2 separate regions of the Homo sapiens genome follow, and region 2 is linked to region 1. The links come from fine-mapping of genetic effects on gene expression. A gene starts in region 1. The other region holds a variant in brackets. All regions are shown on one strand. Distances are from middle to middle. Region 1 holds the start of DDR2 (discoidin domain receptor tyrosine kinase 2). Region 2 overlaps DDR2 (discoidin domain receptor tyrosine kinase 2).

What was found. PIP is the estimated chance that this variant, and not a neighbour inherited with it, causes the effect. A credible set is the group of variants that fine-mapping cannot tell apart.
Region 2: its variant is the best candidate, but not a certain one, in a credible set for the expression of DDR2 in whole blood (TOPMed, PIP 0.51).

What each region holds. Positions count from the first base shown.
Region 1 is chr1:162,630,496-162,634,767 of GRCh38, reverse strand. It overlaps DDR2 (discoidin domain receptor tyrosine kinase 2), which reads right to left and starts at 2,304. Exons shown (of 18, transcript NM_006182.4): 1 at 2,137-2,304. RefSeq lists enhancers at 3,457-3,556, 3,847-4,026.
Region 2 is chr1:162,746,550-162,750,821 of GRCh38, reverse strand. The region is part of intron 3 of DDR2 (discoidin domain receptor tyrosine kinase 2); the gene reads right to left. Among named protein-coding and RNA genes, the nearest start is that of HSD17B7, 42 kb to the left of the region's middle. The variant AG/G (reference allele first, on the strand shown) is at 2,284.

The DNA of each region.
Region 1 (4,272 bases):
AGGGGATGCTTCACCAAGCACAGTGTCCTTCAGCCTGCACTGCTTTGGGCAAGGAATCATATCAAACCAGGCCAGTGGAGGAGAATTTAAGAGACAGAATTTAAGACAGAGCCCTCAGGAATATTCCCCCGGGAGGGAGGAAGGCCTGCTTCCATTCAAAGGAGATGGGCACTAAGACTGAGGCCACCCATTTCAGAGTTTCACACACATCCAAATCCATCTGCCCTCCTGCCAGCATCAGCACCAACTGCCAGACCCAGCACCACAGGGGCTGCCTCATATGACGTTCTGTGTTTACCGATCCTAATCGAAAGAGCTGATATGGGTAAGCCCTTGATAGCCTTCAGCATGCATGCATGTCCAATACCTCTTGCAGCAATCACACTGAAAGGTACTGCAATTGTTCCCATATAATAAATACAGAAGTCAAGGTGCAGAAAGGCAAAGCAACTTTGCTAAGTAGTAAAAGGTAGAGCCAGAACTTATCCTGAATCTTCTGACTCTAAGTCCCAGGCTCTTTGCATAACAAAGGTAAGTATATACCAAAGACCCAGAAATCAACCCCACATCTGATATCCAGACAAATGTTCAGCCAAGTGCAGAAGTGGCCTCTGAGAGAGAATCCATACTGCTCCCATAGCCTGACACCTTCACCTCCTGATCAGCCAGTGAAATATGGAATTTGACCCCAAAAGTAACCAAATGCAAGGGAGATGAGGGGAGTATCATTGAATAGTGATTCCAAGCATAGGTTTTAGAGTCAGATATACATGAGTTTCAAATGTATTAGCTACCTTTCCTTGAGCAACTCATTTCGCTTCTCTAAGCGTTAATGTCCTTACATGTACGATAGAAATAATGCCTTACATAGCTGTGAGAGTCAATCAAATTATGTATGAAGAGCTCTGAGCATGAATTATGTATTATTTTGAGCCTGCTGCATAGAAAATACTCAGAATTTAGCTTCTTTTTATTTTACACACACACACAAATATAACCATAGACATCATTAGCTGATGAGCCGCCATTGGCGTCCTCTCTATTACTGATAATTAACGTCCTTGTGGTGACTTGCTCATCATACTGCCTCTATTGTCTCAGCCAGAATAAGCCTTAAAAAGGAAATGAAAGCAGAGGTATGGAGTGGAAAGAACACTGGACTAGCAGTAGAGAGAATCTCAATTTCATTTTCAGCTCCACTACAGATGTGCTGTGGGACTTGAACAGGTCGGTCCCCTTCCTATCATTTTTTACATCTGTGGAGCGAAGGGGTTAGATGAGAGGCCTAAGGCCCTTTTCAGGACTCTTAACTCTGTGTTGTAGGAAGCCAATGATCGGCAAAATGGTGCTGAACCCCCTACTGGCTTGAACAGTACGAACTCTTGCCTCAAATGGCTGGTCTGAGAGTTTCAGCCACTGGGAACAGTTCTCTTTCCCTTTGGATGGGACTCTTGAACCTAGGCCAGGACTCAGAGGTCCCAAATGAAAACAGCCCCAGTCATTCCATAACAAAGGGAAAGGCACCCAGAGCCAGCGAGGAGATGAGTCTGGGAAGCTGTATTTCACTGTCACAACTGAAAAATCTTCCATGCACCCAGCCTCCCCCTAGCCACCCCAAATCTCAGGGGGAAGCCACCCCTCATCCAAAGTTACCCTTCTCACAAGTAAATCAGCAACTCCCCTGAAAAACAAAAAGTGCTTGGTCTACACTATCTCCAAAACTCAGGACCTTCTAACACCACTACTAAATGTCTAAAAACTTAGCTCTCCTGCTCTGCCTTCTTCATCCTGAAACTAACTCTGCAATCGGCCTGTCTTGCCTGCCAACAATTTCAACTCTGCTAACACTGTTTATTGTATCTTGCAGCTGCTATAGATTCATTTATTTTGCTTCAGGCTTCTTTGGTTATTACTGCTCTTTATTCTTCCCTTCATAGCATAAATCCAGACCCCCAAAAACATGGGATCTGATTTCTCGAGTCTGTGGTGCCTCATTACGTTCCCTTCCTTGTCTGACTTAAAACGCCCTTCTGTTTCCTTTTTAAAACTTTTCCTGAAACACCAAAAGAAGTATATGCGGAGCTTTCATTTTCAAAAAAGAAAAAATAATAAAGAAAAAAGACCCACATAACTTACTTTCATCCAGGGGTGCACAGTTTTGGAAAGAAGAAAACAGAGCTATAATCCACTGCGTTTCCCCAACCCAAAAAGAAGAATTTGTTGTGAAACGCTTCTTTTTCCACTTTGCTGGTGAAGGAGCCCGGTGGTAGGCATACATCCACAGGCTGATGCAAGATGCCTTTGAGAGAAACCTCACATTCTGAGGATTCCTGGGAAAGCGCCAGGGATCCCAGCATCCAATATATTGCACATTTGGTTTCAATTAGGAAGGGGGTTGGGGAGGGAAGAAGGAAAGTCACCAATCAGAGCTGTTTTCTGTTTGGAGACTATTTCTTTTGACCCAAGGGACTATGGGCAAAGCTATAATTTACAGCAAAACCCATTCATAGAAGAAAAAATATGTATAACCATAGGACAGACTTAAAGACACCGCTCCCTTCTGCCTTATTCCCACCCATATCCATCTCCACTTCCTTCCCCTCCATCTAAGACTTGATCCCCTTCCTGTGATCCCCACCCCCCCGCCGCCTACCCCACACCTCATTTTTCTTACTTGAGCTGAAGCTATAAGCAAAACTTAAAGTTTGGAGTTTTCCAATTGAAGCTTCCAGGACAGTTGGGGCACACACGCGGAGCTGACCTTTAGTATTTTGACCATGAAAGCCTAGAGCTGAGCTCTCCCCCGAAAGATTTGATTTAATCCCTTCCCACCACGGCTCCCCCCACCAAGAAAACAACTGGAAACTGCCAGAATCCAGGATTCCTATTTTTTTCCACTCAATTCCCAGTTGGCTGCTGCCTCTGAGGGTCTGTTGCTGTCCTGGATTCATGCTGCTAAATGAAAACACAAGCATTTATAAGGACTTTCTAAATTATTTTGTGAACTTTTTTTTCCCTCCTTTATCTTCTCCCCGCTTCCACAGCTATAGTCAGAGATCATGTGAAAGGGGCGGGTAGGCAACAGGGGAGGAGCCTTCACTCCACTCTCCAAACGATAACTAATAACCCTCTCCATCCATCCAGGCTCCAGCCTTAACCCTTCAGAGCCTGGATCATTCCTGACCAAGCCCACGCTGGGCTGTTCTGGAGGTCCTGATTCTCCGTGAGTATGGAGAATGCAGGGCAAGCAGGGACCCAGGGGCAGGAGATCCAAAGAGAGAGGTAGATGGCAAAAGGCAGGTCAAGAAGACCGAGCTTACCTTTGAGAGCCAGACTTCTTGTAAAGAGACCTCCTTTCTCTGAGCTCTGGAGCTATCACCAGCTCTTCTCTGTTTGTAGTTAATCTGGGATTGCACAGTCTCCAAGATGAGCAAGAAAAGAAGTGAGCAAACAGGAAAGGGAGGATGGAAAGAGATCATGGAGGAACGTTCCCATAGTAAGTTAGGGGCAGGAGATGTTTCATAAGGGGAATGGAAAAGCGCACACACACACACACACACACACACACACACACACACACACACAATGAGGGTGGCCATGAAACTGAGAGCTAGTGTTGAGTCAGTGTTAAGTCCCTAAAAGTCTCATAAGCTCAGCACCAGTCTGAGGGTCAGAAAGCAGCCGTTAACATCTGTGCCTCACAGCTGTTACAGAAAAGGACACGGAGAACATGGGAATGGTTCAGAGGGCAGCCATGGAAATGATTAAAGGCAGCAAGCAAGACCTTAGAGAAAAAACTAGAACTAGGGTTAGTTTATGAAGAGAAAAGACACTGCAGAGATCAACTTATTAAGAAGACTCTTCAAATAACTTACAGCATCTGAAGTCAGGCCTGAGGGTGACTCAGGCCAGACATGCAGCTCAACTCAATAAATATGTGTTGGGCTCTTATCAGGCACTTTACTGGGTGCTTGCCAGAGACAACTAGAAATCCTCCTCAAATGTCCATGCCTGTAGTAGTTCACCTCTTTGGCATTACTATAAAGAATGTACCAAAAATACAATCTGTGATTTCACAGATTTGGTGATACTATAGGTCAAATGTGGAAAACAGTAACAACTTCATAAAACCAGACTGAGCCTGATAAAGGACAGGGCCTGTACATATAGGTATGTGTTTTCCTTTTTCATTTTAAGGTGGTTCTACTCCATAGGTGAGATTGTTTTTTCTCTGTGTATGTATAATTAGAACTCAAGTTGTAGTCTTAATTG
Region 2 (4,272 bases), 120 kb before region 1:
GTGTTCTGTTCCATTGGTCTATATCTCTGTTTTGGTACCAGTACCATGCTGTTTTGGTTACTGTAGCCTTGTAGTATAGTTTGAAGTCAAGTAGTGTGATGCCTCCAGCTTTGTTCTTTTGGCTTAGGATTGTCTTGGCAATGCGGGCTCTTTTTTGGTTCCATATGAACTTTAAAGTAGTTTTTTCCAATTCTGTGAAGAAAGTCATTGGTAGCTTGATGGGGGATGGCATTGAATCTATAAATTACCTTGGGCAGTATGGCCATTTCCACGATATTGATTCTTCCTACCCACGAGCATGGAATGTTCTTCCATTTGTTTGTGTCCTCTTTTACTTTGTTGAGCAGTGGTTTGTAGTTCTCCTTGAAGAGGTCCTTCACATCCCTTGTAAGTTGGATTCCTAGGTATTTTATTCTCTTTGAAGCAATTGTGAATGGGAGTTCACTCATGATTTGGCTCTCTGTTTGTCTCTTATTGGTGTATAGGAATGCTTGTGATTTTTTGCACATTGATTTTGTATCCTGAGACTTTGCTGAAGTTGCTGATCAGCTTAAGGAGATTTGGGGCTGAGATGATGGGGTTTTCTAAATATACAATCATGTCATCTGCAAACAGGGACAATTTGACTTCCTCTTTTCCTAATTAAATACCCTTTATTTCTTTCTCCTGCCTGATTGCCCTGGCCAGAACATCCAAACTATGTTGAATAGGAGTGGTGAGAGAGGGCATCCCTGTCTTGTGCCAGTTTTCAAAGGGAATGCTTCCAGTTTTTGCCCATTCAGTATGATATTGGCTGTGCGTTTGTCATAAATAGCTCTTACCATCAATACCTAGTTTACTGAGAGCTTTTAGCATGAAGGGCTGTTGAATTTTGTTGAAGGCCTTTTCTGCATCTATTGAGATAATCATGTGGTTTTTGTCTTTGGTTCTGTTTATATGACGGATTAGGTTTATTGATTTGCATATGTTGAAGCAGCCTTGCATCCCAGGGATGAAGCCAACTTGATTGTGGTGGATAAGCTTTTTGTTGTCTGCTGGATTCAGTTTGCCAGTATTTTATTTAGGATTTTTGCATGAATGTTCATCAGGGATATTGGTCTAAAATTCTCTTTTTTGTTGTTGTTGTGTCTCTGCTAGTCTTTGGTTTCAGGATGATGCTGGCCTTATAAAATGAGTTAGGGAGGATTCCCTGTATTTCTATTGACTGGAATAGTTTCAGAAGGAATGGTACCAGCTATTCTTTGTACCTCTGGTAGAATTCAGCTGTGCATCCATCTGGTCCTGGACTTTTTTTGGTTGGTAGGCTATTAATTATTGCCGCAATTTCAGAGCCTGTTATTGGTCTATTCAGGGATTCGACTTCTTCCTGGTTTAGTCTTGGGAGGGTGTATATGTCCAGGAATTTATCCATTTCTTCTAGATTTTCTAGTTTATTTGCATAGAGGTGTTTATAGTATTCTCTGATGATAGTTTGTAATTCTGTGGGATCAGTGGTGATAACTCCTTTATCATTTTTTATTGTATCTATTTGATTCTTCTCTCCTTTCTTCTTTGTTAGTCTTGCTAGCGGTCTATCAATTTTGTTGATCTTTTCAAAAAACCAGCTCCTGGATTCATTGATTTTTTGAAGGGTTTTTTGTGTCTCTATCTCCTTCAGTTCTGCTCTGATCTTAGTTATTTCTTGCCTTCTGCTAGCTTTTGAATGTGTTTGCTCTTGCTTCTCTAGTTCTTTTAATTGTGATGTTAGAGTGTCAATTTTAGATCTTTTCTGCTTTCTCTTGTGGGCATTTAGTGCTATAAATTTCCCTCTATGCACTGCTTTGAATGTGTCCCAGAGATTCTGGTATGTTGTGTCTTTGTTCTCATTGGTTTCAAAGAACATCTTTATTTCTGCCTTCATTTCATTATGTACCCAGTAGTCATTCAGGAGCAGGTTGTTCAGTTTCCATGTAGTTGAGCAGTTTTGAGTGAGTTTCTTAATCCTGAGTTCTAATTTGATTGCACTGTGGTCTGAGACAGAGTTTGTTATAGTTTCTGTTCTTTTACATTTGCTGAGGAGTGCTTTACTTCCAACTATGTGGTCAATTTTGGAATAAGTATGATGTGGTGCTGAGAAGAATGTATATGCTGCTGATTTGTAGTGGAGAGTTCTGTAGATGTCTATTAGGTCCACTTGGTGCAGAGCTGAGTTCAAGTCCTGGATATCCTTGTTAACTTTCTGTCTTGTTGATCTGTCTAATGTTGACAGTGGGGTGTTAAAATCTCCCATTATGATTCTGTGGG[AG/G]TCTAAGTCTCTTTGTTTCTAGGTCTTTAAGGACTTGCTTTATGAATTTGGGTGCTCCTGTATTGGGTGCATATATATTTAGGATAGTTAGCTCTTCTTGTTGAATTGATCCCTTTACCATTATGTAATGGCCTTCTTTGTCTCTTTTGATCCTTGCTGGTTTAAAGTCTGTTTTATCAGAGACTAGGATTGCAACCCCTGCCTTTTTTTGTTTTCCATTTGCTTGGTGGATCTTCCTCCATCCCTTTATTTTGAGCCTATGTGTGTCTCTGCACATGAGATGGGTCTCCTGAATACAGCACACTGATGGGTCTTGACTCTTTATCCAACTTGCCAGTCTGTGTCTTTTAATTGGAGCATTTAGCCCATTTACATTTAAGGTTAATATTGTTACATGTGAATTTGATCCTGTCATTATGATGTTAGCTGGTTATTTTGCTCATTAGTTGATGCAGTTTCTTCCTAGCATCGATGGTGTTTACAATTTGGCATGTTTTTGCAGTGGCTGATACTGGTTTTTCCTTTCCATGTTTAGCACTTCCTTCAGGAGCTCTTGTAGGGCAGGCCTGGTGGTGACAAAATCTCTCAGCATTTGCTTGTCTGTAAAGGATTTTATTTCTCCTTCACTTATGAAGCTTAGTTTGGCTGGATATGAAATTCTGGGTTAAAAATTCTTTTCTTTAAGAACGTTGAATATTGGCCTTTACTCTCTTCTGGCTTGTAAAGTTTCTGCTGAGAGATCCGCTATTAGGCTGATGGGCTTCCCTTTGTGGGTAACCTGACCTTTCTCTCTGGCTACCCTTAACGTTTTTTCCTTTATTTCAACCTTGGTGAATCTGACAATTATGTGTCTTGGGGTTGCTCTTCTCGAGGAGTATCTTTGTGGCGTTCTCTGTATTTCTTGAATTTGAATGTTGGCCTGCCTTGCTAGGTTGGGGAAGTTCTCCTGGATAATACCCTGAAGAGTGTTTTCCAACTTGGTTCCATTCTCCCCGTCACTTTCAGGTACACCAGTCAGATGTAGATTTGATCTTTTCACACAGTCTCATATTTCTTGGAGGCTTTGTTCATTTTTTTTTACTCTTTTTTCTCTAAACTTCTCTTCTCGCTTCATTTCATTCACTTGAACTTCCACTTGATCAAATTGGCTACTGAAGCTTGTGCATGCATCACGTAGTTCTCGTGCCATGGTTTTCAGCTCCACCAGGTCACTTAAGGTCTTCTCTACACTGTTTATTCTAGTTAGCCATTCGTCTAATCTTTTTTCAAGGTTTTTAGCTTCTTTGCGATGGGTTTGAACATCCTCCAAACTTCCTTGGAGAAGTTTGTTATTACTGATATTTTTAAGCCTACTTCTGTCATCTTGTCAAAGTCATTCTCCGTCCATCCTTGTTCCATTGCTCTTGAGGAGCTGTGTTCCTTTGGAGGAGAAGAGGTGCTCTGATTTTTAGAATTTTCAGCTTTTCTGCTCTGGTTTCTCCCCATCTTTGTGGTTTTATCTACCTTTAGTCTTTGATGATGGTGACCTACAGATGGGGCTTTGGTGTGGATGTCCTTTTTGTTGATGTTGATGCTATTCCTTTCTCTTTGTTAGTTTTCCTTCTAACAGTCAGGACCCTCATCTGCAGGTCTGTTGGAGTTTGCTGGAGGTCCACTCCAGACCCTGTTTGCCTGGGTATCACCAGTGCAGGCTGCAGAACAGCAAATATTGCAAAACAGCAAATATTGCAAAACAGCAAATGTTGCTGCCTGATCCTTCCTCTGGAAGCTTCATCTCAGAGGGGCACCCAGCTGTATGAGGTGTCTGTAGGCCCCTACTGGGAGGTGTCTCCCAGTTAGGCTACTCGGGGGTCAGGGACCCACTTGATGAGGCAGGCTGTCCATTCTCAGATCTCAAACTCCATGCTGGGAGAACCACCACTCTCTTCAAAGCTGTCAGACAGGGACGTTTAAGTCTGCAGAAGTTTCTGCTGCCTTTTGTTCAGCTA